3 linked regions of the Homo sapiens genome follow. The protein of the gene in region 1 purifies or fractionates together with the protein of each later gene. This does not show direct contact. Each region holds a gene or a part of one and is shown on either strand. Other genes may lie near its edges.

The links.
Region 2: the proteins of HECTD3 (region 1) and RPS4X purify together in Homo sapiens (affinity purification with mass spectrometry; 3 studies listed by BioGRID and IntAct, with this or other methods). This does not show direct contact.
Region 3: the proteins of HECTD3 (region 1) and SLC7A11 purify together in Homo sapiens (affinity purification with western blotting; 2 studies listed by BioGRID and IntAct, with this or other methods). This does not show direct contact.

What each region holds. Positions count from the first base shown.
Region 1 is NC_000001.11:45,000,655-45,010,153, forward strand, and holds the end of HECTD3 (E3 ubiquitin-protein ligase HECTD3), read right to left. Parts: intron 9,468-9,499; coding exon 9,332-9,467; intron 9,030-9,331; coding exon 8,914-9,029; intron 8,829-8,913; coding exon 8,715-8,828; intron 8,573-8,714; coding exon 8,490-8,572; intron 8,048-8,489; coding exon 7,882-8,047; intron 7,668-7,881; coding exon 7,586-7,667; intron 6,942-7,585; coding exon 6,759-6,941; intron 6,618-6,758; coding exon 6,565-6,617; intron 6,362-6,564; coding exon 6,297-6,361; intron 6,142-6,296; coding exon 6,038-6,141; intron 5,463-6,037; coding exon 5,343-5,462; intron 5,230-5,342; coding exon 5,140-5,229; intron 4,153-5,139; coding exon 3,946-4,152; intron 3,724-3,945; coding exon 3,594-3,723; intron 3,481-3,593; coding exon 3,406-3,480; intron 3,283-3,405; coding exon 3,201-3,282; intron 3,087-3,200; coding exon 3,015-3,086; intron 2,923-3,014; coding exon 2,838-2,922; 3' UTR 1,894-2,837; downstream 1-1,893. UniProt on the Homo sapiens protein: E3 ubiquitin ligases accepts ubiquitin from an E2 ubiquitin-conjugating enzyme in the form of a thioester and then directly transfers the ubiquitin to targeted substrates.
Region 2 is NC_000023.11:72,273,286-72,283,493, forward strand, and holds the start of RPS4X (small ribosomal subunit protein eS4, X isoform), read right to left. Parts: upstream 3,964-10,208; 5' UTR 3,911-3,963; coding exon 3,908-3,910; intron 2,950-3,907; coding exon 2,872-2,949; intron 2,440-2,871; coding exon 2,259-2,439; intron 1,866-2,258; coding exon 1,768-1,865; intron 688-1,767; coding exon 516-687; intron 105-515; coding exon 1-104.
Region 3 is NC_000004.12:138,174,939-138,185,160, forward strand, and holds part of SLC7A11 (cystine/glutamate transporter), read right to left. Parts: coding exon 10,183-10,222; intron 8,368-10,182; coding exon 8,264-8,367; intron 7,456-8,263; coding exon 7,359-7,455; intron 5,853-7,358; coding exon 5,703-5,852; intron 4,457-5,702; coding exon 4,279-4,456; intron 3,240-4,278; exon of another isoform or gene 723-3,239; intron 1-722. UniProt on the Homo sapiens protein: Heterodimer with SLC3A2, that functions as an antiporter by mediating the exchange of extracellular anionic L-cystine and intracellular L-glutamate across the cellular plasma membrane.

The sequences.
Region 1 (9,499 bases):
CACAGTACTCAACAGTCTTCTCAGCTGGCCTCTGTGTTGAGTTACATGCCTTAGGAATTTCGCATTTCATTGAGCTGCATTGGTTAGAACGATCCTGTTCTGTCCCCTAACAATTTTCACTTCTTTGTAGCTTTTACAAAAGTGTTCTTAAGTGTTGTTTATGCAACTCTTTGTTTGTATGTCTTTCCCATTAGAGTTTAAATCCCATAAGGGTAAAAATTATCACTGCTTTAGCCACGATTTTATCCATTCACCTAGTGCAGTGCCTGACCTAGGGGCTTGATGCATATTAGTTTATTGAATGAATGAAGGGTTAAATGAAATGCAGGCTACAAAATATACAGTGTGAGTAAAAAAGGGACTAAAGAGTTCATGTGACCATACCAGGCACAGAAACTGGCTACTTCCTGTAGGAGCACGTGGCCTGGGCCCTTTCCTGAGGGGAGAGAAGGGAGAGGTGCACCCTGACTTGGGAAGAGCAGAGCTGGGTGGAAGTGGTGGCCTTGGGGGTTTCTGTGCCTTCTGCTTCCTGGAAGGGAAGGGGGTTCACCACCCAAGGTGCAGGGGTACAGGGGAGGCGGTGGCAGCCGAGAGACTGAGCTGTCAAGTTCCGTGTTTTGGGATAGGTCTCAGGGTGCACACAGTGCAGGCAGAGATCAACCTCTTGCACAGTAAGTTTCCCAACTAGGGCAGTGTCAGGGAGTGCCCTAGAGGACAAGAAGGGGAAGAGTTGCCAGGGCGAGACTCCGCCAAGCCACTTATCTGGACAATCAGCCACCACAAGGTCTCACATTGTACCTGGACTCTGAGACGACTGGGACCCTGGGGCTGTGCTTGAGAGCGTGACTGGCCACTGTGGGGGTGTAGGGGGACTGTTCGTACACAGGGTTCTCCCTGATACTCCTTTTTTTTTTTTTGGATAGAGGGTCTCACTCTGTTGCCCAGGCTGAAGTGCAGTGGCATGATCTTGGCTCACTACAACCTCCACCTCCTAGGCTCAAGCGATCCTCCCACCTCAGTCTCCCAACTGGCACCACAGACACGCACCCAAGCCCTGCTCATTTTCGTATTTTTAATAGAGAGAGGGTTTCACCACGTTGGCCAGGCTGGTCTCCAACTCCTGGGCTCAAGTGGTCCGCCCACCTCAGCCTCCCAAAGTGCTGGAATTCCAGGTATGAGTCGCCGGCCCCAGGTACTTGTTCTTGAAGACTACTCAGGCCTGTAATCCTAGCACTCTGGGAGGCTGAGGTGGGAGGAATGCCTGAGGCCAGGAGTTCGAGAACAACCTGTTCAACATAGGGAGACCCCTATCTCTGCAAAAAATTACCCAGAAGCGGTGGCATACTTGTGGTCCCAGCTACTCAGGAGGCTGAGGTGGGAAGATCACTGGAGCCCAGGAGGCCCAGGCTGGAGTAAGCCGTGACTGCACCACTACACGCCAGCCTAAGCAACAGAGACCCAAACAAACAAACAAACAAACAAACACCCAAAAAGGACTGCAACGGGTTGGGGGCAGGGTAATAAAGACACTACTTCCTCCACTTCTGTCAACAACCCTGACCTGGCTGGTTTGTCAGCCCTCCCGTCTCTGTCTTCTATGATGTCAAATTCTTCTGCCCACTTGGCTCCAGAAGTGGACTCCCATCCTCCAAATCACCATATCCATGCCAGAAAATGCCAGGCCAGCCTGTTTGCTTGTTTTCCCTTTTCTGCGCAGTGGGGCCCTTACGTCTCTGCTCAGCCCCAGATATGTAACTGTGCAAAGTCTGTCACTGAGAAACCTCTACTTGCATTTCACATCCATCTTCTTGGCTCCGAGTAGGACACTAAAGTCAATTTCTCCTTGTGACCCTGTGCCTAAGCCCAGGGCCCAATAAACACATTCTGAAGGAATGAATTCATCCATTTATTCAACTTTCCGGTATGCAAGAACTTCTTTTCATGGAGTGTCACGGAGGCCCTGAGGGAGGAACGGTAAACTGGGGCAGGGGTGTGCATAGCTCTAGGAACAGGTTTAAGGTCTAGGCTTTAGAGTTGGGGAAAGGGGAGCTATTACAGATTTCAAAAAGGCCATAACTGGCCTTAACCTGTGCAAAATCTTGGGGGTGAAAGGGCAGACAGGGAGTCAGGCTGGAGGTGATGGAGAAGTGAGGAATATGGGGAGGTCGTGGTAGTAGAGTTCACATTGAGTGGATGTGGGTTCTGAGTCAGGGAAGGTGGTGGCACTTTGTGTGTTGAGACTGGGTTGGTAGAAGAACAGAGCTCACCACATCTCTGGTATGGAGGGAGAGGGGAAAAGAGCAGAATGTGAGGGCAGGTGCTCAGCTACTGCTTCCTTCTTGGAGCAGGTGACCAAGGAGTTTGGCTATCACTCCCTGCCCATCCCAGGCTCCCTGCTTGGGGAGGGGCCTCCACTAACCTCCAGTGTTTTATGTTTTTAGTTGTGAGTCATGGCTGAAGAAAGCCAGAGAGAAAATAGGAGAAAAAAGGCGGAGCTGAAAATGGAGGCAAAGTCCATGGGTTGGGGACCTAGATGGCCCCCTTCAAGTAGCTCAGGCCTGGCAGCTTGTGCTGGGCTTGTGGAAGATTCCCTCTTAAGAGGTGAAATACCTCGGGAAGCAAGCCCCAGCACGGGTAGGGCTTGTGGGTCTGCGGGGCTGGGCCACTAGTGTTACCTGACCATGCCAGCTGCCCCTACCCCAACTGCACACAGGAGCAGGGCACATGGGGTTTTGCTGAGCACGTCAGCCAAACCAGGGCAGGGAAGGTGTCTTCGCCCTGGGCAAGGCCAAGAGGGACACGTGCAGTCTTGCTGGTCCCACAGCCGGCGGCACGCCTCACTCCTCCCAAGGGCTCATGTCAGTGTCGATGGCCACGCAGTTGTAGGCCGCATAGCGGAGCTTCTCCTCGCATACCTTGGCACTGTGGGAATGGGGACTTGGTCAGGTCCCTACATCGCTACCAGGGGTGATGGGGTCCCCTGGGCCCCAAATCGAGCCTAGGAAAAAACCCACCTGGCATAGTGTGGCAGGAAGAGGGTGCTGGAGCAAGTGGAAGACTCGGGCAGCGCGTCTGTGGTCTCGTAGCTGGGGGCATTGAGGGACCATAGGTCAGGAAGATGTGTTGGGGCACATGTACGTGTGTGGGGAGGGAGGACAGAAGGCGGCCATGGCACCTTCAGGCCTCCCTCCAGCACTCACCCCAGCTTGTCTGGGTAGATGTAGATCCGTGCTGGCAGGCGACTGCGGCCCGTGACAAAGCGCAGGAAGCGGCTCCGGTCCTCTGGAGGGAGAAGGAAATCAGTGCCTGCATGGATGGTGAGGGAGGGTCTACAACTTCTACCCTGCCTCTGCAACTCAGCAGCAGAGTCCAAACCCAGGTGTCACCCTGCCCTCCTCCACTGACCGTTGGTGAAGTTGTTCAGTGCCTCCCAGAAATACTGCACCCGCGAGTCAGATGGCTCGAAGTCCTCAAACCGGGCTGGTGGAGACAAGGCCAGCATTCATTCTTGGGTCTCATCTTGCCCAGTCCTTGAGCCCCAACCCCTGTGCTGTGCTGTGCTGCCCTGCCCTGCCCTGCCTTGGGGAACTCACTGAGCTTGCGCAGAGCATCCACAGTGACCTCTGGATCCCCACACACTTTCTTCTCCAACTCTTGCCAGGTCAGCAAGTCCAGCACAGCCTGTGGTACCACCTTCAGCAGACCTGCCTGCATAGCTGCCACCTGGGGAGTGGGTAAAAAGGCTTGGCTGGGGAAGAGGGCACACCTCCCGCCTCACACTGGGGGGCATCACTGTGGCCTTTTAGCAGCAGAAAGGTGGCACTGAGGAATGGTGGGGGCCAGAGTTCTTGGAGTACTGGTGGCTTACAGGCTGTGTTCTGGGTCCCAGGAGCTGGGGCTCAGGAGGGGCCAAAGCTCTCTGCTCTACTAGCCTCTGGGTACTACCTGCTCCTTGCTCTCCTCTAGCCGTGCCTTCTGGACCAGTTGGATGAAACGAGAACGGTCCCCATATCCCACGACGATGCCTGCACCCCCAGGGATCAGCTCCACCACCTGTTGGTCACTCAGTACAGTGGTGAATGTTAGTTCCTTCCCAAACTTGAACTCAAACGTCTCCTTGTCCATTCCTTCCATCACTTCCAGGAGCTTCACCTAGGGGTTGGAGAGAGGCAGGGAGGTAACCTTTTCACTGTGGAGATAGTCCCTGTCTTTCCACAAGATGCTCACAGGGAAGCAGAGACAGCCAGGCAAGGCAGTCCCCATGGAGGCAGCAGGGAATGAGGGTGTCAGTACAAGAGCTGTAAAAGCATCAAGACAACACCTAACCAGCCTTGGAGGCCAGAGGAGGCATCCTGTGGAAAATGGTGTCTCAGCTGAGACCCAAATGATGGCTGGGACATAAGGGAAGTTAGGAGAGAGAACATCTTGGAGAAAGCTGGAAAGAGCAAAAGGCCTAAGGAAACTGTGTGGCTGGAGCCTGAATGTGAACCAAGTGGCTGGAGACACAGGGTTCACGTAAGGCCTTTACAGATTCTGCATTCTATCCTAAGCCCAGGGCCGAGCCATCAATGAGTTTAAATAAGGAGAGTGAAATGAATTACTGTGGCTGCATGGAGACCAAACGGGTAAGAACGGAGACAGGGACACCAGCTTTTTAGTAAGTGATTAGCTAAGGAGGAAAGGTGTCCTCAACCAGGCAGGGAGACAGTAGTGAGACAGGAAAAGCAAACAGATTACAGAGGAAGACTTAAGAATATGGTGGCGAGGGAGAAGAAGGGGTGAAGGATGGCCCTGTGGGCTTTGGGATGGGGAGGAGTGGGACATGGTGCCCTTCTGAGGCAGGAGCCCTAGAGGGGAGTAGTCTTCGGAGAAGATAAAGAACACACTGAGCCTGAGATGCCATCTTGGGGCAAACGTCGAGGGTACAGATACATATATGGCCCCAGGCTTAGGAGAGGCTGGGGCTAGAGGTCAGGATTTTAGGGGTCACGAGTCTACAGACAGTAGTTGAAGCCATGGGAGTGGATGGATTGGAGAGGGATCTTGTGTGTGGTGAAAGAACAAGGTACAGAACAGCCTTAGGGAGGACCAACCTTTAGGGGCTGGGCAGAGGAAACACTGGTTCCAGGTCCTACTCACCAGCACAGAGTCCACAGCTGGGAAGTCCTTGCTCCAGCTCACCTCCTCACCAGAAAGCTGCTTCCACACAAAACCAGGCAGGGCCAGGACCTGTGTGACAAACACTCCCCACTGTCTTCTCACCCTGAGCTGCCCAGGTTTGGCTGGCCTTTCCTTCCAAGGGCCAGGGCTGATCGGACGGGGGTGTGGATAAGGCTACTCACCAGGAACTCCTTACCCCGAAGGGCAGCCCCCATCAGCTGTCCGATCCATTCATACTTGGCAAAGTCTCGGCAGGAGGGGTTGGGTACATACATGTCCCGAGCCTCACCAGTGCCATTGCCCTGCCCCAGAGACAGAGCTGTGAGTGTGGCATGAGATACACCCTATTTTCCTGGCCCAAAGACTTCCCTGAACATTTTCCACTGGGAACATTTTCCACTAAATGATCCCTTCAAATGCACAGTGGCTCCTCCTCTCCCTGTCTGCCCAGAGGTTGCCCTGAGCAACTCAGTCCCTCCTCTGCCCTATTTCTATTTTTTTTTTTTTTTGAGACAGAGTCTCACTGTGTCACCCAGGCTGGAGTGCAGTGGCGTGATCTCGGCTCACTGCAACCTCCGTCTCCTGGGTTCAAGCGAGTCGCCTGCTTCAGCCTCCCATGTAGCTGGGACTACAGGCGCGTGCCACCACGCCCGGCTAATTTTTTATTTTTATAGAGATGGGGCTTCACTTCATTGGCCAGGCTGGTCTTGAACTCCTGACCTCGTGATCTGCCCGCCTCGGCTTCCCAAAGTGCTGGGATTACAGGCGTGAGCCACTGTGCCTGCCCCCTTTCTAGCTCAATCTGGCCCCCTCCTCTGCCCCCTTTCTAGCTCAATCTGGCACCTGGGAGGTTTGCAGAGATGGAAACGGAGATTACCTGGTTGGCTGTGCGTACAAAGAAGGGCAGGGGCACGGGGGTATCCGCTGAGCTAGGGCACAGCTCTTCTGACATATCTGCCAGGCTGTCCCGGAAACCACCCCCTGAAATGACAGATGCCCTCAGCTGGGCACTCAAGAGCCCAGCTCCCATAATGGGGTAATGAATAGGTCCCCCATCATCATTAGCTGGTGAAAAGCCTCTACCACTTTGATAGGGCAGCAAGCAGGACCCTTGAGATCCTCCCTCAGGGCCTCACCTTGGTCAATGATGCCTTCTGCAATAAATTTACACTCCCACCACTGGTCATAGCGCATGGGCCACCTGCAAAAAACGTGGGCAGATTTGTCATTATGTGGGGCCAGGTGCAGCACAATTCATCAGCTCAGAGACCACCTGGGAAAAGCAGTCATGGCGAGGGGTGCCTCGAGCAGTTGTGTGTGTGTGTGTGTGTGTGTGTGTGTGTTTGTGTGTGTTTGTGTGCACAAACAGGTGTCCCGAGTAAGTCCCTCACTCTCATGCCATACCTGTAGTCCAGGGGCTTTTCATATTTGTCAGAGGGCTTGAGGCCTTCATATACCTGGAGGCAAGGAGGAAAGGAGTCATAGGAAAGCAAGACCTGGCCCTATACTTGCCCCAAGAACTTGTTCAGGTCCCTCTTGGCCTAGCCCCCTTGGCCCTTGACTGATCCTATCTCAGTCGGACCCTAGGTGGTGCAGACCTGGGTGAAGACTGCATTCTTGCAGGCAGGGTCTCGAGAGGGGCAGGCACGGTGTTCCATGGCAAGACGGCGGTTGATGTATAGGCGTGGCATGAAGCTGGGCTTGCTGCTCTCAGAGTCACGCAGGCACTGAGCCACCAGGCCTGGCCGCTGGCGGGACAGCAGTAGGAACTGCTTCACTTGCTAGTGAGGAGAGGTGGCCAGAGCAGGAATGAGTGGGCAGTCAGCCTCCGTCCAGGCCCTGGAACTTTCCCCTCTGCCTGTATCCAATTCCACCGTTTCAGTTCAAGTCTAGTCCATCCCTGTCTTTGTCTCCAGTCCCCTCCTTAGTTCAGCCACCAGGGAGAGCTTTCTAAAACAAAAAAATCTAATACTGTCATTACCTTCCTTACCTTTCCAACAGCTCCACTACCCTGGGACAAAGTCCTTGCTTCACAGCCTGGCCCACAGGGCCCTCTGCAACCAGGACCTGTCTCCTGCCCACATCCTTCCACCCTCATCCCTCTGTCATACTCACACCTACTGGCACACTTTTCTCAAGACATCTTGAGCTGCTGGTAACTCCCTGTATGTACCTTTCACGCAAACTGCCCTGCCTGTGCTGTCAATAGCCCTTGGGTATTCCACACACTCTGGAATACCAAGGAGGCTGGGGAACAGCCTCCCAAACACTAAATTTGGACCATTTGTTCTGGCTTTCTTCCTATGTTCCCAGACCCAGCAAAGGTCTTGCCCTAGAGTAGATTTTAGGAACTCTGCTAAGGAATGAACAACTACGTGAGCAGGAAGGGGAAATGCCAAGACCAGCACTGGCTGGGTCGGCTCACCTTAATCTCACTGAAGGTGCCCAGTGTGTGGTCCCAGGCAGGTACCAGGTGGTGCAGGACACTATCGAGGATCTTGATGAATCTGGCATGGGTAGATAGACTGCAGCTAAAGAGTTTAGCATACCTGTAACACCCCCAACTCCCCAACATAAAGGGACAGGAAAAGGCAGGACCTGGGGGCTTCTCTGACCCTTGAACAGCTTATACTATGAGACCTTGGGAACCTCCTCCATGCAGACACACAAGGCTCAATGTTGGGGGAAGGGAAGGGCCCATAGGTCCAGGACCACAGCCACCTCTGCAGGAGGACAGCTCTGCGGTACAGTACTTCAGGGTCGGTGCCTTCTAGGCGTGGATATCGCACCAGACTAGTTGGCTGGAACAGGTCTGCATTCAACCCTAGTTCCCGCTGTCTAGATGACTTGATCTTGACCCCTCGGAGACGAACATCAATCCCATCATCTGGGGGAAGGGGTCAGAGTAAGGTCATTTACAGCACCTGCTGCCTCCTTGGCCCTCAGACCTGGGACCGGCTCCTTGAACGCTCAGCCTTGTGTCACCGTTAGCCCCTAGAAACTCGGGACCTTCGGGATCACCTTCTATCACCTGATTCTGATTGATCTATTCCTGCTGATTCCTCTGTCTTCCACTAGAATGCTGGGATGCCTGAGGGTCCCAACTCAGTTCCTCTTCCAGGTGAGCCCAACCACCTGTATGGCTTTAAGGCAGGCCTATACCTGGCATGTCCCAGCTGGCTCAGGCCCCAAAGCTCCAAATCCTGGAGTTAGTTCAGCATCGCCTTCACCCCAACTCCAAGCCCATCCTCTTCTCTCCACACACACTCTCTGTTTGCCCCCATCTCCACGCCGGGCTCTCTTTCCCTCCTTATAGCCTTAAACCTCACCTCGGCACTCCACGATGCGGATCTCGATGATCGGGAGGTGGACGGTCATGTCCTCCAGGACACAGACATCCCCGATGAGGGTCCTGAGGAGATGAGTGTGAAGCACTTCAGATACCTCCTGCCTCAGGCCTTCAGAGACTGCTGGAGTCTCACTCAAACTTAGGCTTTCAAGCTGGGCTAGGCTTGGAACATGCCCTACTTCCCTCCCCAGGCCAGCGTGCTCACTCGTCAATGCTCACGTCACTCAGCTTCTTCAGGTTGTCCCCTTCACCCCCATAGACCACCACCCGCTTTGGCATAAAGTTGTCATCTGTGGTATCCACTGTGAGTAGCAGCTTCCTGAAGGGTCAGAGTGTGAATATGAGTCTTTGTGAACCCACAGGGACATAGCCCACCCACCCTGTCCTGCCCAGAGCCTACTTACTTGACAATGGTGCCCTTCTTCATAGTAAGCCGTACCCAGTGTTGGCACTGGGACCCATCGCTCTCCCAGTAGGTATCGGCATTGCTGTCTGTCAGGCAGGACACGTTGAACTCCTCCTGGGGAGGGGCAGAGACGTGAAGTCAGCAGTTACCCTCCCTCCCTGCACTGGGCTTGTGCTCTGGGCCAGGAGCACCAGAGAGAAAGCATAGTGAAGTTGGGCTAACAGGCAACTGGTATGGGATAGGGGGCCGCTGGGTATGTAAGGGGTCCTATAGACGTCCAAGATGGGGAGCTGAACTGAGTGTGGCCTGTGGGGACCCTGTTTTAGTCCTGGCCTGCAGGTGGGGGTTCTTTCTGGATCTAGCCTTGAGGGGTGTGACTATATCTTGCCTGGGGTGGGAGGAGCCCCAGCACCCACCGTGTAGGAGGAAACGTCTATGCTCTCCACATACTGCTTCACGCTACCCAGGTTCTCATCCTCCTTGCCCAGGTGGTCATACAAGAAGTGGATCAGGTCCTCGTCGCACTCGTAGGTCCATGTCGGGGGTACATAGCTAAGCAACCCCAAGCCCCTAATTAGACTGGG
Region 2 (10,208 bases), on another chromosome or scaffold:
ATCTTTCACGTGAACCACGTCAAAAGATCCAGGGTGCCTCTCTCTGTTGGTGATCACACCAATTCTTCCTAGGTTAGCACCTCCAGTCACCATACACAGGTTACCTAGGCAGGAAGAAATAATCTGCTTCAACTCAATATAACAAATGACAAGCAGCTCAGAGATGGGTCCAAACAAATTTTATTCCTCCTTTCCCCCCATTTGAATTTCCTCATATGGAACTGCTGCCTATGCTAGGACTCCCGGGACTCTCGTAAGAAATTTTGTGGCCAGGCTTGGTGGCTCACACCTATAATCAGTTCGAGAACAGTCTGGGCAACACAGTAAGACCCTCCTCTATAAAAAACAAACAATTTAAAGAAAAGAAATGAGTATTCTGAGCATTTGTGCCTCTGGCTATAAACACACCTGGGCGATTGGAGCAGATGGTTTTTAATAAAGATACCCAGACCCTGTGCAATTCATAATGATCTAGGCCTTAAAGAGGGTGCCCAGGTAGCACAGAGGATGCTTACCAGTGTCGAACTTGATGAAATCAGTAATCTTGCCAGTCTCCAAATCAATCTGAATGGTATCATTCACCTTGATGAGGGGATCGGGGTAGCGGATGGTGCGGGCATCATGAGTCACCAGATGAGGGATTCCTTTTGTGCCCACAAAGATCTTTCTCACTTTGCACAACTTGTACTAGAAAAATACAAGGGTTAGCCACATTCAATCCATCTCACATGTACTTTTTAACCCTATACAGGAACCATGGGTTCCCTAACTGCTGCAGATTAATTGTGACGCTGATCGTTCTTTCCACCCTCAAGTGTATGTTGCATAAAGCCCTTCTCTAGGCTCGTCCTCCTAACATCCACCATTGCCCTCCACTCCTCCAATGTAAATGCCACTCCAGTTTCCCAGGCTCTTTAAGCCTTATGGGGCCCTGGGAATTCTTCCCTTCAACTCAACTTTATCTTAATGGCTCCCTGTACATCACGACTGAGTTTTGTCTCACAAACAGCAATTACATTACCAGTTCATCCAATCAACAAATACTTCACATAGCATTTCAATTTTGGATCTCTACTCCCTGATATCCTTGAAGTAAATCAAATAATCACAGATCCCACTGGACGTGCCCTCCAGTCTGCTGTTAACAAGGCTGTGCAAAAGGAAATTAGGAGCCACATCAGTCAATTAAATTAACCTTCATTTACAGCCAATAATCCAAACAGCCCTAAACTTTTGTGTAAAACCATCAAAACAAACTGGATTAAATAATCAAAGACTGTAATCTTTTTTTAAACCTCAAACTAGTGCCTCAAGGACTGTCTGTTTCCTCCATCGACACCTTCCCCTCCCCAAAGTAAAGCTACTCCCACAAATGGAGACATGGCAAAGGGCTCCTACGTCAGGTACCCAATAAACAAGTTCCCAGAAATCATTCTCCTTGACTCTTAAGAGACACCAGGAAGTCGCGGTTCAACTGGAATTCATTTCTACCACAAAAAAAGAAAATCTGCTGAGGAAGTTAACTTCAAATGGGGGCCAATTTTAGGTATCCATCAATGCCCTACAGCTATCAGCCAGACTTTTAATAACATGACAAAAAGTTACATGTAAGACAGAATCTCATCGAATTGTTAGCTAGATATTTCCAGGTATGAGATTTTAACTAATCAATACCCACCTCATTGCAAGCAGCACTCGTACTCAATGCAGGCCCTTAGAACAAAGTAACTATACTGAGTAAAGACCCAGCTTGCTTGCCACACTCACCTTGGCCTCCTCAGGTGTAATACGATGTACAGCAAAGCGACCCTTGGTGTCATAGATCAGACGGAAATTCTCTCCCGTCTTGTCAATGCTGATGACATCTGAAATCAAGCAGTAACCGGTTACTACATACAGTGATCCCCACTACCTCATGCCGAGCAACAACCATAGCTCTCTACGAAACAAAAAGAACCCCCATGTGCCTCCCAGTTCTAATCCAACAAGGATTCTGAAGATTAAAGATCACGGCCAGATCTTCAATATTTCAAAACCCCATGACTGCATGTAAAATTTAAAAGTGAATCGAAATTTAGTTTTGAAAAGCGTTTCATGATTATTTGCATGTTTTTTATTTAAGTAAAAAACAGAGGGAAGGTCAGGCTTTGTTTCTGAGACTTGACAGATTACAAAGGTTAGAAAAATGATCAAGACAGTATTTGGATACCATAGGGCTGCCATCAATATGCGTCTCCAGAGTATTTAAAACTTCTTACCCATGAATCCAGCAGGGTAGGTTATATCAGTTCGGACCTTGCCATCGATTTTAATGAACCGCTGCATGCAAATCTTCTTTACTTCATCTCCTGTCAGGGCATACTTAAGTCTGTTCCTCAGGAAAATGATGAGGGGGAGACACTCTCTCAACTTGTGGGGACCGGTGGATGGACGAGGAGCCTGTAACGTTAAAAATGATAATCACTGTTGGGATTCACTAAAGCACTCAAACCTACCTCCTAGTCCACCAGATCCACTAACTGAACACCAAGACCGTCCATATTACACCCAACTTGGACTTTTACACAGGAGGTGTAAAAAGCATCCAAAACTATTTCATACCTTAAAGTTTTATAGCATCTTCCCTGTCAGAGGACCAGGATCATTAAGAACATGAATCCTGAGTCCATGTAAATGTACTATGTGGTATGTGGAATAAATGAGGCACAAAAATATTAAATCGATTGGAAGTGGAGGACAGCTAGATAGTATAGCTCCTTCAAGGGCAGAGGAAGCCAAGAATAGATATTCCTCCCCTAGCCTGGTCCCCAAATGAGTCCTGGGAGACACTTAAAAACAGTGGCCACGGAAATATTTATATAAGATACTTACAAACACACCGGTCAATTTATCCAGCATCCAATGCTTTGGAGCTGCCACCCGCTTCAGATGCTTCTTGGGACCACGAGCCTGAAAGTTTTAGATTGCAATGCTGTTAATCAGGTTTCAGAACAGCTTATAAAACCTAGTGTGAAACTAAACTCTTAGTTTAGTTTCATCTTCAGCAAAATGTGGACAATATTAAAGTATAGTGTTCCGATAAAACAGAAACAAACACAGTTATTTAACAAACACCGTGAGATCCATAAGCTGCAACAAGCCTTCTTATTGTAACAGAGAATATTCTTGGTTACTATGTTTCAGAACGTTTACTGATTACTATCTTTCAGAACCTTGCTAAAGTGTTTCCATGTTACTGTTTGAAACTGTATCTGCTTAGAGGTTAGGGTCTTTCAAGAACACCATACTAGTGAAACGCACAGCAACAGAAATGAGCCAGGAGTCTACCTGTGTTTCTAAAGTTTTCACAATTTATTACCGTCTGTTTTTGACACGTATGGAACAAGATTCTGACATCCGCACAAACACATGTGCTGCTCCTTCGTACACTAAAGCCAAAAGCTGACACCAATTTTACTTTAAAAAGAGTAAGGAAGCCTTTTTAATGCTGTGTCCAGATGCTTACCGGCCACGTATGGTAAAGTCAGGCCGTGCCAAAAAGGCAATGACAAAGAAAACCTTTCTCCGCCGGGCACCCCCAGCGCCCACCAACCTCGGGCTCGCAGTCTGAGCTCCTGGCCCAGCCGCGGCTCCGGCCCGGGAGGAAAAGCAGCTTCTCCCGGGATCAGGACGTATGGCCGGGTCAGAAACCGAGGCCTTCCCAACAGCAGCACCAGATCTGCGCCTCCCCAACCCTAGGCCAGCGTTCGCCCTTCGCCCTGGAGCCCGTCCCGGCCTACCACGGAGGCCGTGATCCCTTCGCCTCTGCCCGGCCATCCCCAGTAGGAATCCCGAAACCTCGGGCAGCCCCGGCCGGGGGAGGATGGAGGCGGATACGTCCTAAGAGCTCGCTAACTAAACGGCTTACCATGGCTGCGTTAGGCAAGGAAAGAGGACCTCCGTCTTCCGGTGCGCGTAGAAATTGGGGCTGGAGACTGCGCGCGCCGGATTTTCAGCTGCTCCGCCCAGCTCAGCCCTTTGCTGGCGCGCCGGGACTCTTTCTTGCCATCTGCTGGTGGGAGGTCAGAAGTCCCGAGTTGAGGAACCGCCGCGGAAAGAGGGTGTCTCCTAAGGGCGATTTCCTCCCTCCCCTTTTTCCGCCCTTCCTCCTCCCATATTTGCTGAGCGCCTCTTGTGTGCCTTATTCTGTGCTAGGTGCTGGGAATACAAAGATGAGCTACACAACATCCCTGGCCTCAAGGAGAGTTCAAAGTGAGCTTACTTCCAGTCTCACGTACAGATGATTCTACGCCTGTAATCCCAGCACTTTGGGAGGCCGAGGCGGGCGGATCATGAGGTCAGGAGATCGAGACCATCCTGGCTAACACAGTGAAACCCCGTCTATACTAAAAAAAAATACAAAAAAATTAGCCGGGCATAGTGGCGGGCGCCTGTAGTCCCAGCTACTCGGGAAGCTGAGGCAGGAGAATGGCGTGAACCCCGGAGGTGGAGCTTGCAGTGAGCCGAGATCGCGCCACTGCACTCCAGCCTGGGCGACAGAGCGAGACTCCGTCTCAAAAACAAAACAAAACAAAACAAAACAAAGAACTTGTATATAATCAATAGAATACATTTTAATAAATATTTAATGTTATTTCTTAAACGTATTTTGTCTGTCCCTTTTTTGTGTTCCCTTGAGCCAGCCAGGCAGCCCATACTGAGTTGGGAAGAGCCAACAACGTTTTTAACCCCCTCTTGCTTCTCTGCTTGAACTCTGACATCCTCCCCCTTGCTTCCTGTACAACGCATTTGGCACTTATAGAGACTCAGGGAGGAGAGAGGATATTAGAAATCGTCTGGTTATATCTAACTAAAATGTAGATCTGATCCTGCTTCGAAACTGCCCTTGGCCCTCTGTTTCCTGCCGTAAGGGAGCAGGTCTGAACTTTATCTGGCTCCATTGCTCTCTCTCCCCAATCCCAAACTTCAAAGCTCAAGCCCCACCAAGCTAGTTTGTTCCGAGGGAGTCAGCTCTTTTTGTTTGTTTGTTTGGGAGACAGGGTCTCACTCTGTCACCCAGGCTGTAGTGCATGGCTCACTGCAGCCTCGACAGACAGCCCGGGCTCAAGCGATCCTCTCACTTCAGCCCCCACGAGTAGCTGGGACAACAGGCGCACGCCACTGCACCCAACTAATTTTTTGTAGTTTTATTTTTTTGTAGAGACGGGGTTTCGCCATGTTACCTAGGCTGGTCTCAAACTCCTGGACTCAAGCGATCCGCCCGCCTCGACCTCCCAAAGTGCTGGGATTACAGGCCTGAGCCACTGCGCCTGGCTAGAGTCAGCTCTTTCAAGACTGCTTGTGGACTCGATTCCTTAGCTTGGAACTGCCACAAACAGCCAAACCCCCTTCCTGGGTACCACCTAATCCCACACCTCAGCCTTGGAAATGCACAGTTCAAGTCCCTCTGGTTCTGTGGGCTCGTGGTCCCCTCAGTCAGGGTAAATCCCTCATTCTTGCCCCAGAGGCTTGTGTTCAAACTTGGTGAGGGCACACAGCACATTAGGTAGCAAGGACAAATTTAGTTACCTGGCCTCCACCAAACTGAGCACCTCCAGGATGGAGCCTGCCCTAATTCATCTGGGCAGGCCCCTTGCCACTGAACAGAGAGCTCGGCACTGTGTCCAGCACTTGATAAATACTTGTTGAATGAATAAACGGAGTCAGCATCCCACTTATTGTGCCAAGTCCTACTGTACTATCCCTGAGAGCATCCAGCCTGTGCCTGAATTCTTCCCACCATGAGATCAAGCTCCTAACTCATGAGGTTCCATTTCACAAGTCTCTATCTGTACCATCCACTTTACCCCTCAGCAGTCTGCAGAGGAGCAAGAGAGGGAAACATTGTTGGCTCTTCTCAAGCAGACAGTATTAACCAAGCAGACAGTATTAACTAAGAGGGCAGGAACTCCTCCTTGTCTAAAACTGGGATACAATCCACAATAAAGCATGTTATAAGTGATTATTGGAAAGGATCGATTAATTGGAGGTGAGGAGTAGAGAGAAGGTGAAGGTGATGAGATAATGGAAGTTGGTTCTGAGGTTTTTAATCTGAGAGCACTGGGAAGATGGTGGTACAATTAACAGAAATGGTGGAGAAGTTGCTGTGGGAGTGGGGGGATAACCATGTGCTTTCCAGCTAGAGAGGATAGGAGAAATGGCTGGTTAGAGCTGCAGATCTCACTTAATCAAGATCACACAGCCCGTTTGGGGATGAGGGGACTTGTCTCTTGCCTCCCAGGTGAGTGGTTTGTTTTTATGCCATAGGTTATCAAAGGACTTGAGGAAATCAAAGCATCTTTTTCAGTATATTTCTCTCTCTCAATTTGTATTTATGCACAAATGACATTCTAACAACAATAAAGGAAATTTGGAAAGAGCTAAGTAAATCGCAAACAGTACCTCCCCAAACACCCTAAACACATCATCTGTATTCATTTGTTCCTCTTCCTGTTCTCTTTCTGATCGGCTTGTGTGCATGCATACTTTTACATAATTTTAGTCCTAGCATACAGACCATTTTGTATTCTGTTTTTATTATATTAGAAACACTTTCCAAGTTGCTGCATAATCCTCATAATTACTACTTTAACAGCTGTATCATATTCCATTAAGTGGATGTCCCACAATTAATACAAGTTCTCTGTTGTTGGACATTTAGTTTTCTGTACTTTTTCTCTATTATGCGTGTTGCTACAGTGAACAGCTTTTTCCTTCAGTTGAATATTTTCCTTAGAATAAATCTATTCCTTCAACCAACACTTATTGAGTGCTTACTCTGTGTCAAGCTCTGCATTATGAACTGAGGATGCAGAGATTATTAAGATCTAGTTCTTGCTCTCAAGGAACAAATAATAATATGAGAAGCAGGCTGCGGGGGTGGGGAGGGAAAGCTAGGAGAAGCTTATCGGAGAAAAAAATGGTGGTGAAGCGGGTTGTAATACAGAGGGCAGCTAAATCTTTAGGATCTTGGACTTTAGCCTGTGGGTAGACAATGGAGAGCTGTTGAAAGATTTTAAGGAGGACAGAATCAGTGTTGTGCTTTAAAAAGATAACTCAAACTCCTCCACGTAGAATGGTTTGAAGGAAATGTGAGTGGCTTGGAGGACATGGGTCAGGTCTCTGTCAACAATACAAGCAAGAAACTGAAGGCTGCTGAGACCTAGATTTGTGACTCTGGGGCTGAGGAGGAGGGGGCTCAAAGACTCAAAAGACATTGCAGATGGAGTATTGGCAGGATCTGACTGGGAAATGATGAATGTGCAGGGGTGAGGGACAACGAGGTAATTAGGATGACTCCCAGGTTTCTGGCTTGGTGACTCAGTGATGCATTCACCGGAACAAGGAGGAGGCAGAGGAGTGTGCTTGAGGAGAAGATGAGGAGATGAGTCTGAGACACAGGGCTGAGGGTGCGGGGGAACATCAGCCTGGAGATATCTTATAGACCCAGTCCTGAGCTCAGGCGCATGATCTGGGCTGGAGACTCAGATGTGGGAGAAGTGGTGCATCTGTGATTAATTCAGGGGAGTGGTTGGCAGTAACCCTTAGAAAGAGAGCACTGTGTCAAAGAGTCTGAATCCTTTTGTAGTAGCATATGTGTATTGCCAAAAAGCCTTTCTCGGAGGATTCTTGCAATTTTACTATACTCGTGCCAGCCTGGTAATCACCTATTTTTAACTTTTGCTAATGTAATTATTTTAATTTACACTAAAAAATCTCAACTAGGCCGGGTGCAGTGGCTCATGACTGTAATCCCAGCACTTTGGGAGGCCAAGGCAGGCGGATCACTTGAGGTCAAAAGTTCGAGACCAGCCTGGCCAACATGGTGAAACCCCATCTCTACTAAAAATACAAAAAATTAGCAAGGCGTGGTGGCATGCACCTGTAATCCCAGCTACTCGGGAGGCTGAGGCAGGAGAATCGCTTGAACCCTGGAGGCAGAGGTTGCAGTGAGCTGAGATCGTGCCACTGCACTCCAACCTGGGTGACAGAGTGAAACTCCATCTCAAAAAAAAAAAAAGCCACTAGTGAGGTTGAATATTTTGCCACATGCTTGTTTACTCATTCCATTTCCTCTTGTGTGAAGTATCTCTGGCCATTTATCTTTGGGGACATGTTTTTTGGGTAGATTTCCATGAATGCTTTATAAAATATAGACATTAATCCTTTGTCATACCAATTGGTTATTTTCTTTTTGGTTGTACTTTTCAGTGTACAAACTTTCAGGATTTTATATAGCCAAATCTGTTGATCTTTTCTCTTGTAATCTCTTCTTGTTCCTTCAAAGCTTAGAAAGCTGCTATCAGTTCAAAGATCTATTAGATACTCAATTCTATTTAATAACATATATTTAATTTTTTATTAACTTGGGGTTGATAAAGATAAATAGAATAAATAGAAAAAAATTATATTTCCCCCCAAATGTTAGCTAACCGACATTCTTACTATAATATATTGAATGATCTTTCCTCTGTTGTTTTGTAAAAACCGCTTTAGCATATAATAAATGAAATCACAGAGTACATGGTTCTAGTTCTGTAAGTGTGGGAATGGGAGATGAGTCTTTGAAGAGAGAACTGAGACACACGTCCCCAGCATCCTGTCCCAGATTACTAAGGAGGATAGACGTGTATGAGCAGTTCATGGTAGTAGTGTTGGAATTACAGGCCTATGCCACTACATCTAGCCTTAAACTTATTTTTAAAACAGCTTTACCAGCCAGGTGCGGTGGCTCATGCCAGTAATCTCAGAACTTTGGGAGGCTGAGGTGGGCAGATCGCTTGAGCCCAGGAGTTTGAAACCAGCCTGGGCAACATAGCAAGACCCCATGTCTACAAATAAAAATAAACAAAATTAGCCAGGCATGGTGGCCCACACCAGCAGTCCCAGCTACTCTGGAGGCTGAGGTGAGAGGATCAAAAAACAAAACAAACAAACCAAAACACAAGCTTTACTGAAAAATACTTGACATACAATAAATAGTAAGTGTTTAAAGTACACAATTTGACAATTCTGATGCATGTATACACCCAAAGAAACCATCACAACTATGATAGTGAACATGTCTATCACCAACAAAAGTTTCCTCATGTGCCTTTGTAATCCCTCACTCCAGCCCCTCCCATCCCCACTCCTATTCCCAGGCAACTGCTGATCTGCTTTCTCTGACTATTGATGAGTTTGCATTTTTTAGATTTTTAAATAATAGAAATAAATAGAAATCAAACAGTATGTACTCATTTTGGTCTAGTGTCTTTCACTCAGCATAATTATTTTGAGGCTCATCTATGTTGTTGCGTGTATCAATAGTTTAGCTTCTTCTTTTTATTGCTGACTAGTACTCCATTGTATGGATAAACATTAATTATTTACCCATGATAGACATGTGGGTTGTTTCCAGTTTGGGGCAATTACCACAATGCTGCTATGAATGTTCACATACGAGTATTTTTATGGACAATGTTTTCATTTCTCTCGGGCAAATAACTAAGAGTGGAATGGCTAGGTCATATGGTAGGTGCATATTTAACTTTTATAAAAATTGCCAAAATGTTTTTCAAAGTGGCTTGTGTCATGTTACACTCCCATCAGCAGTGTATGAGAATTTCAGTCGCTCCACATCCTTGTCAACGCATATTAAGGCCCATCTTTAGAAAACATTTTTATTGTGATGAAATATACATAACATTTTTTTGAGGCCTGGTGCAGTGGCTCATGCCTATAATTCCAGCACTTTGGGAGGCCGAAGCAGGCAGATCATGAGGTCAGGAGTTCGAGACCAACTTGACCAACATGGTGAAACCCCGTCTCTACTAAAAATACAAACGTTAGCCAGGCATGGTGGTGTGTGCCTGTAATCCCAGTTACTCAGGAGGCTGAGGCAGGAGAATAACTTGAACCCAGGAGGTGGAGGTTGCAGTGAGCCAAGATCATGCCACCGCACTCCAGCCTGGGAGACAGAGCAAGACCCCATCTCAAATAAATAAATAAATAAATAAATAAATAAATAAATAAATAAATTTATTTGCCATTTTGGCCATTCTTACATATACAATTCCTTGGCATTAAGCACATTCACAATGCTGTGCAATCATCACCACTAGCCAGTTCCAGAATTTTTTTTATTTTCCCAAGCAGAAACTCAGTACCCATTAAAAAATAACTCCCCA
Region 3 (10,222 bases), on another chromosome or scaffold:
AAAATTGCCACATTTGTGATGTGGCACAAGGCCATTTTTTTTCTGGAAGTCTTCATAAGAATAATAGTATTTTTTTAAGGCTACAAATATTTTCACAAGCATGATCTCATTTTATTCTTACAATGAAGATAGTTTGGACCCCTAAGAAATGTAGGCAAGCTTAATTAACTTACATATTGCACTGCAGTCTTTGTGAACAGTCTGTTAAATGCATTATTCAGCTGTCAGTGATTTAACATAAATGAAGTTATCTTGACCCACTGTATGCAGCATATGCTTTTAGGACTCTGGAGTTGCAAACTCACTGTCCACAAAGATGCATTACAGTCATTCTGCTGGTGTTTCCCAGTCTGATTTTTTATAATCAAAGATTTTGTTTAAATAAGGCTGTCCTCTATCTCTCTCCCTGAGCAGGAGGGACCCACTTCCAGTCACCTCACTCAACCCCGTGACAAGGTTTGGCTGCTAAATAGAGACAGCCAAGTAAAACAGCTGCTGTGAGTCCTGGCCCAGGTTTGCCAGGTCTTGCTATCTTTGTGTATTTGCATATGTCATTGGGGTATCCGCCCCTTTTTCCTCGCGTGAGAAGCTTGTGTTTCTATAAGTAAATAAATAATATAACTAACCCACCAGAAGAATAAACCACTCTGTCACAGATGGCAGAAAAAAGCTTTCCGTGTATCTCACCATTCCCTTAAGAGCATGTTTTCTTTTCTCCCTAGAAATGCTATCAAACAAAAAGTGGTTCAATACTGGCATCCTGTGGCTGGAGAGATTTATCAAATCTCTGAAAATCTCAGCTCCTTGGATTCTGAACATTCCCTGGCTGTCAGTTCTCAGCAGCCTTTCACCATTTTCCGAGTGCTATTTGGTTACCTCTCATTTTTCATGGAAACAACCTAGGTAAAATGCATTTTGATAGACTATCATTTTCACAGGGCTGATCTACTCATGCATTATCAGGGTAAAAATAAATGATAATATAAAGGTTTTGGAATTTTACCTAATGAAAGAACATGATATTAAATCATTGAACAAACTGCTCCAAGCAAAGGCTCTTGGTCTCTAAGTTCACATTGAGTTTCTCTCTAACAAAATGATCATAGAGTAGTTGGGAGAAGGGACAGGGCGCTGCTTCAGGATTTTGTTGTTTGTGCGTCTGTGTGTGAGTGTTTTGTTTTGGCCAAAGGCTAAGAAAATACTTCCTATTGCAGCAATAAATATTATGAATTTTCTTTATTTTACTACAAGAATGCTGCCTCAGAGAAAAATCAAACAAAATTACGGAGGACTGTTGCTTTTTGCTACTCACTTTCAAGGCAGCTATAAAGATAAAGAGTTACAATGATCGCAGTTTAAAAGCAGAATTGCCATGCTCCCTGGTAAGACTTAATGGCATTTTTGAGAACCAAATAACCATTATGGGACTACTCCATTGCTGCTAGTTTCACAAATGGCTAACACTAAATTTGGAGGCCTTGGAAATGTTCAAAACATCATTAGAGATAGAAAAATAGCAACAAACTTTAAAATTACATGAACACCAAAAGACATCAATGAAGGATCAAGCATGAAAACCGCTTGTTGAGATGAACTGACAAAGAAATAATACAAAGTACACACGTGCTTGTTAGCAAGAGGAAAGAACTATTAGAGTTGGCTGACTCCAAACAGGAGGAACAAAATGCCTGCTAAAGTGGGATCGAACAATGGCTTTGCTCTTTCATCATGCTCCCTTTCTTCTAGTCTAACTCTAGGACCACCAGCTCTTTCTTCCTCAATTCTCTTAATTTTCTGTGCTGCTCAGGGGTTTTAACTGTCTTGGTTAGTATGGGAGACAGACAGATTTCACAGCGATGAGTGCTAATCTATCCTAAATGTTAGCAATGAATAAAGCAACCCTAATGGTAAATGGTATTTAATAAGATCCCTTTTCCCTCAGAACAGGCTCTATATTTAGTGTCTAGAACACAGAAAACTTAAAAATATTCCACAGAAAGCTAGTGTGATCTGAGAAGAAATAGAGATTAAATACTCAGTTAAGGCAATCAGTGTGCCTGTGTCAGCCATAAAGCACCTCATTTGTATAGTAACATTTCTTTGGGGAAACAAAATCCAGATATAAATATTAGTATAAGATCTAAAGATGCAAAATTCCAATTGAATGCTAATAAAAGGTATTAATAAAACTCTGCTTTAAAGGACTGACTTCTCAATGAGTCTGCACAGCACACTAGAGATTCAATATGCATATCAAGGTTTTTGGTTGTTTGTTTTTTTAGTAACACTGGCATTATTTATTAATAATTTAACCAGAAATCTCCCCAAACTTTTAACTGGAATTTAAAAAATTAATTATGGTAAAGTAAGTAAATTAAAACAAAGAAAAAGTATGAAAGCTATGTTCTAAACTCACCACATTCACCAGCGAGAATAGATCTGCCCTTCTGGCTATATTTGTTACCTACCTATCTCTCTCTCTCTCTCTGTCTCTCTCTCTCCCTCTCTCTCTCTGTCTCTCTCTTTCCCTCTCTCTCTCTCTCTCTCCGCCCCCCCCACTTCCACAAGGGATCCAGTCTAGAAAGAGCATGAACTTAGAAGTCCAGCAGATGTGGGTTCAATTCCTAGTTCTATGGTTTAAAATACATACACTCAAAAATAAATTCTCCATTTTCCTGAGCTCTGGTGTTCTCATCTGGACTTGGGAATAATAGCACCTCACACATCAACCTTGTTGAGGATTGCTTGAGATGATCATGTAGGGGAGAGGACTCAGGAGAGCCTCTGACAGAGAGATATGCTTTCAACACAGGCTATTCATAAGCACCCTTCCTACCTAGTCATCTACTATGTTTTCTCCTCCCCCAGTTTAACTGGTCACCAAGTCTTGCTGATTTTTCCTTTTAGTATGTTTCACTTTCTCTCAGACCCTGCTGATACTGCCTGTCTTCAGAATCCCCCTCAATTCTCATCAGGATTGCTGCAGTAACCACCAAAGTCAATATTCTGTCTTCAGCCCCAACCTATCTTAATCCATCCTCATAACCCCCAGGGTGATTCTCCTAAAATATAAAACTGCCTGAGTTTGACTTTCAGCTATTCTACTTTATATCTGTATGACTTGGAACAAGTGACCTGAATTCTCTCATGCTATAATTCAAAGCCTATTAACTGGGGATAATAATTTTCCTACCTCAGTAGGATATTATATGAATTAAATAAAGTCTTGTTCCTCTCCCTGTGTCCATGTGTCCTCATTGTTCTACTCCCACTCATGAGTGAGGACATGTGCTGTTTGCTTTTCTGTTCCTGTGTTAGTTTGCTGAGAATAATGGCTTCCAGCTTCATCTATGTCCCTGCAAAGGATATTAACTCATTCTTTTTTATGGCTGCATAGTATTCTATCATATTTATGTGCCACATTTTCCTTATCCATTCTATCATTGATGGGCATTTGGGTTGGTTCTAAGTTTTTGCTATTGTAAATAGTGCTGCAATAAACATACGTGTGCATGTGTCTTTATAGTAGAATGATTTATAAACCTTTGGGTATATACCCAGTAATGGGATTACTGGGTCAAATGATATTTCTGGTTCTAGGTTCTTGAAGAATTGCCACACTGTTTTTCCACAATGGTTGAACTAATTTACATTCCCACCATAGCACATGTATACCTATGTAACAAACCTGCACGTTCTGCACGTTTATTCCAGAACTTAAAGTAAAATTTAAAAAAAATTAAATGAAGTCATACATGTGCACTCACATGTGGAAGCTGCTATTGTTCTCTCCATTGTTCTTGTTATTATAATCCTTCATGAGTCACCCTTCCTTTTAAGGTAGCGTACAGTCATAATGTTTAAGGCATTTGCAGGCCACTGCCTAACTCCCCAACAAATCTCGTGTCACTCATCAAGTTACATATTATGATATAAAATCACTAAACTGCATTCAAACTAGAAGGAAAATAATTAGGTTAGTAAAGGATTCAAAGAGAGATTAGGTCGATTAGAGAACTACTGATAAAATTTCATCTAAAACAAAGCTGTTTCTCCTAAGAAGTGATTACAGCAGCCCAAACTAATATCCAAAAGGATTCAACGGCTGTACCCTAAATGTCCTTCCTGCCAAAAAGCAGTTCCAATTAAAATGCCATAATGTTCTCAAATCAATTGTGCCACTTACATTTTTAAATGTTAAGTATATTATGTATGCACACCTTTATGGGTTTTCTACATGGTGTTGCACAATGTCCTGAAAGTATTTAAAATTCTTACCCGACATTATTCTAAACCACCTGGGTTTCTTGTCCCATATAATAAAGAGATAATACGCAGGGACTCCAGTCAGAGTGATGACGAAGCCAATCCCTGTACTAAATGGGTCCGAATAGAGGGAAAGGGCAACCATGAAGAGGCATGTGAAGGAAAACAAAGCTGGGATGAACAGTGGCACCTGGAACACAGAACACAAAAAAGTCACTTCAAACATGTTCAAGCAACAGAAGCTGGGTTTGAGATGAGCGTGTCAGTCATGACATATACTTTAGTGATATGCTGTAGTCATGCGACCAGGTAACAGGCACCAACGTGCCTTAGTAGCAAAATCTCTTTCATGGTGCACAGATAATGTATTAAACGTACTCCCTTAAATGTAATTCAACTTAATTTAAATTGTTTTTAAATCTTTGGCTAGAACAAACTCTAAGGACAAAAATGGATACTTTATTAGAGATGTTCTGTTGGAATTATTTTACTAGTTAAATGCCATGATGATTTATGGTTTTGATTTTAAAAGACTGGCTCTTTGATAATTATGATTAGAACCCACTTTAATGTGGAGTCAAGAGCACCGGCTGCTTGTTACATGTTAAAGTCTTTCAGTGCATATTGATTTTTCTGTTGAGATCCACAATAATAACTGACAGGAATAAAACAAGCCAACTCCTATTCAACCGCTAATAAAGATGCCACCAGCATTAGGCAATGAATATTACTAGAAACAAATCCTGACAACATGACTGACAACCTTATCTATGCCATTTCTTAAAAACAAATAAATCGTGAGGTCAAATCAATCCATGAGTCAAGTCTGAAGAAGATGACAAGCTTTTTCTCCAGTCCTCCAAAAGGGAGATGCTTACTTATGGTAAATGGGTATCAAGTGGTAAATTTGTAGATCTTCTCTTTCCCTGTATATTTTACATTTCTATTCTTTTTGGAGTGTATAATATAGAGAAAGAGCAATGTAACAAGTCACAACATTTAAGTACTTAAAATGCCTATTTTGTAAAGGCAAATTCCTTTTTGGAATTGGCATTAACAAAGTATCTCCCTTACTCCTCCTCACCATGGCTGTCCACAACTCTAGCATAAAGACAGACAGAAGTAGCCCATACTTTGAGTATATCAGGTCATTGAACACATTCATGAAAAATCAACATACCAAACATTCATTCATACAGTCATTTTTCAAAAATTTGACATACAAAGTTCAAGCCCATCACATAAAAAATTGGATCCACTGTTTTTTTTCCAACTTAAAATAAATCCAACAGGAAAGCACTGCCTGCAAGAGTTAAACATTTTTATTCCACAGATGCTGCCCCCAGCCCAACCTCCCCATCAGCAAGTTATGACAAAGGGAGGACTAGGTATTAGGAGAGAGATTTATGTAAACCCATCAAGATTGCTGAGGTTACCTTGAAAGGACGATGCATATCTGGGCATTTGTATCGAAGATAAATCAGCCCAGCAACTGCCAGCCCAATAAAAAGCCACCTGGCAAAACTGAGGAAATTCAAAAGACTGTCGAGGTCTCCAGAGAAGAGCATTATCATTGTCAAAGGGTGCTGAGGGGGGAAAGGGAAGCAAGCTTGGTGAATTCAGTGAAAACACAGATGATTAACAACAAAAACCTCACTATGCATTACGACCTTTTTCAAATAATTATTTATACCGATAAATTATCATCATAGTTAAAACTTGGATTTGACTAATCTCTTTTCTATATTCTGTTGTCATAATCCATTTACACACCAGTAACAGTATGAGAGTGATATGGCCATTATACTTTATTCAAGTGGAATTCTATATGAATGTTGTGTTGTGTTTTTAGTTCCTTTTGCATTTGAGAGAAGATAGTATGTCTTCAAAGAGTAAAAGAAAGGTTACTCAATGACTCAAAATTGAAAGACTCAAAGATTGAGATGATTAGTAAATAACCGATAATGAACAGTAAAAGAGGCCCAATTGGAAGATTTACAGAAAGCTCTGCAAATGCTCTCCGGTGAGCTCTTGGCTATCCACACCCAGGAAACACAGACACTCATAGGTGATTCTGTTGGCTCTTGATTGCAAAACATTGACCTTTTTTCCTCCACATTTACTCTCCTGGTGTGCTTGCCGTGTGTGACCCTCAAGACCACGGAGAAGAATGAAGCGCAGAGATCAGCTTAGCAAGTCTCTGCAGCTGCACATGCCAAGGACAGCATGACTGATAGCAGAGGCTTAAAATGAAAGCCCTCTTCACGGAATAATACATTCTGTTCCCACAAGTGACGTTAACATCCAGATTCTGCACAGAGAGTACACATACTTTAAAAAGAAATTTCAAGGAAACGTTCTGAAACAAATTAAATGCATGAAAAAAAAATGTTCAGTGCATTCTGTGGTGCTCCTGACAACAGACTCCAGTTGAGAGAAATGTTACAAAATCATCAGTAAAAATGAATATAACATTGCCAATGGGTATTTGAGGACTTTTACACCTCATACAGTCTTTTGTAGCTCACATTTCACACTTTGCTCTGCAGAAAGAATTTTACAACTCAAATTTACCTCGTGGTGCTTTTATTTTTATCCTGCAGGATAAAAGACACTTGCTCTCAAATGTCTCAAATGAATCATGGCACTGTCTAGGATTTTATCAATTGTTTCAATAATTTTGTGTGCATTTCATTATAAGGTGCCTAGATGATACATCTGGGTACTTTTTGGACTGTAGCTTTTTGCTCTACTTTCCTTAAGTCATTGGGACTTAATACTCTACATTCTTTTCTGTGAGGTGCTATGTCAATGAGAGGAGCCAAGCCAATCATTTTCCTTAGACCTTACACATTTCTGCAAAGATGAAAGTGAGGTGATGATGATTTTTGCCCCAAAGCATCAAAAAAAATAGGCATCAGAAACATGGAGTAAAGGGAAGAGATGGAAGATATCCTGCCTCCCAAACTCCACCATGACATACATTAGCAATGAATGAGAAAGTAAAATACTATCTAATGTCTGGTTGGAATTCCTTTTTGCTAACCTATTATTCAAGGTTATATCTAGATATACTTGTTAATATGCATTACCAAAACAATAACAGCTGGTAGAGGAGTGTGCTTGCGGACATGAATCATGGAGAGGATTTCTGGAAGGTGACCCTCTCGAGACGCAACATAGAATAACCTGATGGGAGAGAAATGTGGGTGGAGTTGACTGTATGATTGATCATTTCAAAGGGAAAATCCAAAAATCCCAGAGAAAACGTGCATCTTTTCATACCAAATGGTCAGGTATTCCTTAGGTGATTGCCTAAGTTCACTTTTCAAATAAGGTGGAGAAATATCATAGGAAATCTAAATTTGGATTTTACAAAATCTGCCAACATTATATTATTCTTTGAAGAGAAAGAATAGCAATATCTGACTCAGCATAGCTCTCTCTACATATAAATAGCTGATGGGAAATCTAGTTCTAGATTCCTAGTATTATATGTGTGTTGTCAATCCAATTCAACAAACACACACACATGCACATCCACAGGTACACACACCTATATGTAGCATTCACATTTATCTGATTGGCTTTTAATCGTATATTAAAACAAAAAGACTATTGCATCAAACTAAACAAAGGAAATACTGATGGTAGGGGTGGTGATTTCTGATGTCTCTTACTTTACTTTTTTCTTGGCATCTTCAGAGAAACAGAAAATTATATCACCAGAAATAAAATGCCATTGTTAGACTGTGGAAATACTATTTTTAAAAAAGCCACATGTCCGTCTTCCAAATAAGCTATTAATAGGCAAGCAGTGCCCTCTAATGGACAGAATAAAACGTGCTGTTGATACTTGGACCAATATTTCAATCTTGCATGTCCCTTTAAAAACAACAGGTTTGGAGGCACTATTTCTTTTCTTTTTAAAGTTATCCTTATCACATCCAATCTCAAAAACAGAAATGTGTTTCTGGAAATACATGAACTCACTCACCTGGAGACAGCAAACACACCACCGTTCATGGAGCCAAAGCAGGAGAGGGCAACAAAGATCGGAACTGCTAATGAGAAATTTCCCAGTAGCCGCTCAGAAAAGGTCTAGTGAAAGAAAGAACGAAGCAAATTAATGCCTTGCCAGAAAGTGGAATAAAATGAAACAATTTAGGCCAAACTTGCTCTATGACTTTCTATTAGCCTGGTGATACTTGTATGTTTTATAATTTCTCTCTTTGGTTAGGGTCAGACTAACTCCGTAGACAATAATCAAAAGCAAGGACCATGGCATTGCTTGTTGCAAAACTATAGTCAAAGATCTAAACAAGCACCTTCTCTCTACTTTCAAAAAGCAATGATCCATTTATCGAATCTTTATCAACTATGATGTGTATTGTCTCTGACTCTGACAAGTGATAAAAGCTCAAATCAGAAGTTCTACTGGAGATAGAAATCTTTCTGTATAATACGTTCTCTTTAGCCTGGAAAACCAAATTTTATATTGAAATACACTGAGAAGTATTACAGATATGTGTTTCATATGCCAATCCCATTCTTAGGAGGTAAATAAAATAATTGATGACTTAATAATTTATAGCATATACATGAGTAGCTCTGAAAATCTTTTTCCCAGAAAATCACACTAGCTAAATCTCTGTTTATAAAGTCCCTCCCTCCCCCTCATGTATGTGTCAATTTCTTTTGTGGTTTCCTATAAAAAGGCTAGAACACAAATATAAGTCCGATAAGCCACAGAAACTTAAAAGATAAACACAACTTCTAAAATGTTCTTTTATGCCATGATATGTGCGATATTGCAAATTTCCATGAAGGATGTATTTTCCAAAAAAAGAAAATGTGTTGGATTCATTAGTTGTCCTTGATGCAGCTGGTGCTATGCAATTAATGGGCCACATTATGCCCAAAGAATAAGTGCTGCCCTTTGTCTCAAAAGATGAGATGACTGACCTGACTTCAATAAGCTTTGTATATTTGATTGTCTGGTGGGACTTAGAGCAGTGGTCGAAGTCTTTTTCAATGTAGTGAACTCATACACAGGTTCAAATGAAATGAGATAATTTATTCCCTGTAGATGCTGCTGATATGAGGTAATACTAACTATTTTAAAAGGAACTGACATCAAGTAATGGGAACTTAACTTTTCACCATTCATTGTTATGAGGTCAAGAGTGAATGGTCTCTTACTAGCTAAGTTTTATGCAAAATAAAAGTGTATCACAGAATAACAGTCTTATAACATGATCTTTGGGGACAAAGATGGTCCTAGTGTCAAATAAATTTTGGAAAATGCTATAAAATTATGTGTATCCACTTCTTAGGGAGTTCAAATGCATGTTGGTATCTTTAATATTCTGAGAAGTATTATAACAACATCGGTTTAACTTTGAATAACCCAGTATTTCCTAAATTTATTAATATCGCAGGACTAGTATTCAAAAGGATATACTAGGAAAACCAAATTTATATGGTCCACATCAAAATTCTTAAGTGACACTTGGGGAAAGGATTCTGAGTTCGCATATGAAAAGTTTACAAACAGGAAAGTGTACAGAATAAATTGTAATTTGCATAGAAAAAATGCATTTATTTAGATTCAATAACTGTCCACCTATCTTTAAAGACATGCTGGGAGAATAAGCTTTGGCAGATTTTCAAGCATGTATGTGTGAAACTGTTTTATAAGAAATTAGAAATAATGGGAAATCATATAGGAATTTAGATATATCAGTTAAATGGAATATGCTAAGGTATGCTCTAAATTTTTTAAATATTCACTATTATTCAGGTCAAGAAAAGATTACTGAATTTCAAAACACTTTCTGCTAGAGGGAACTACTATAAAATTGCATCAGCTCATTAACCTAAATTCCAATTGGCATTTTCCCAACTTGGACTTACCACTGCCACTGCATTTGAAAGCAGCAGCTCCTCAGCATTA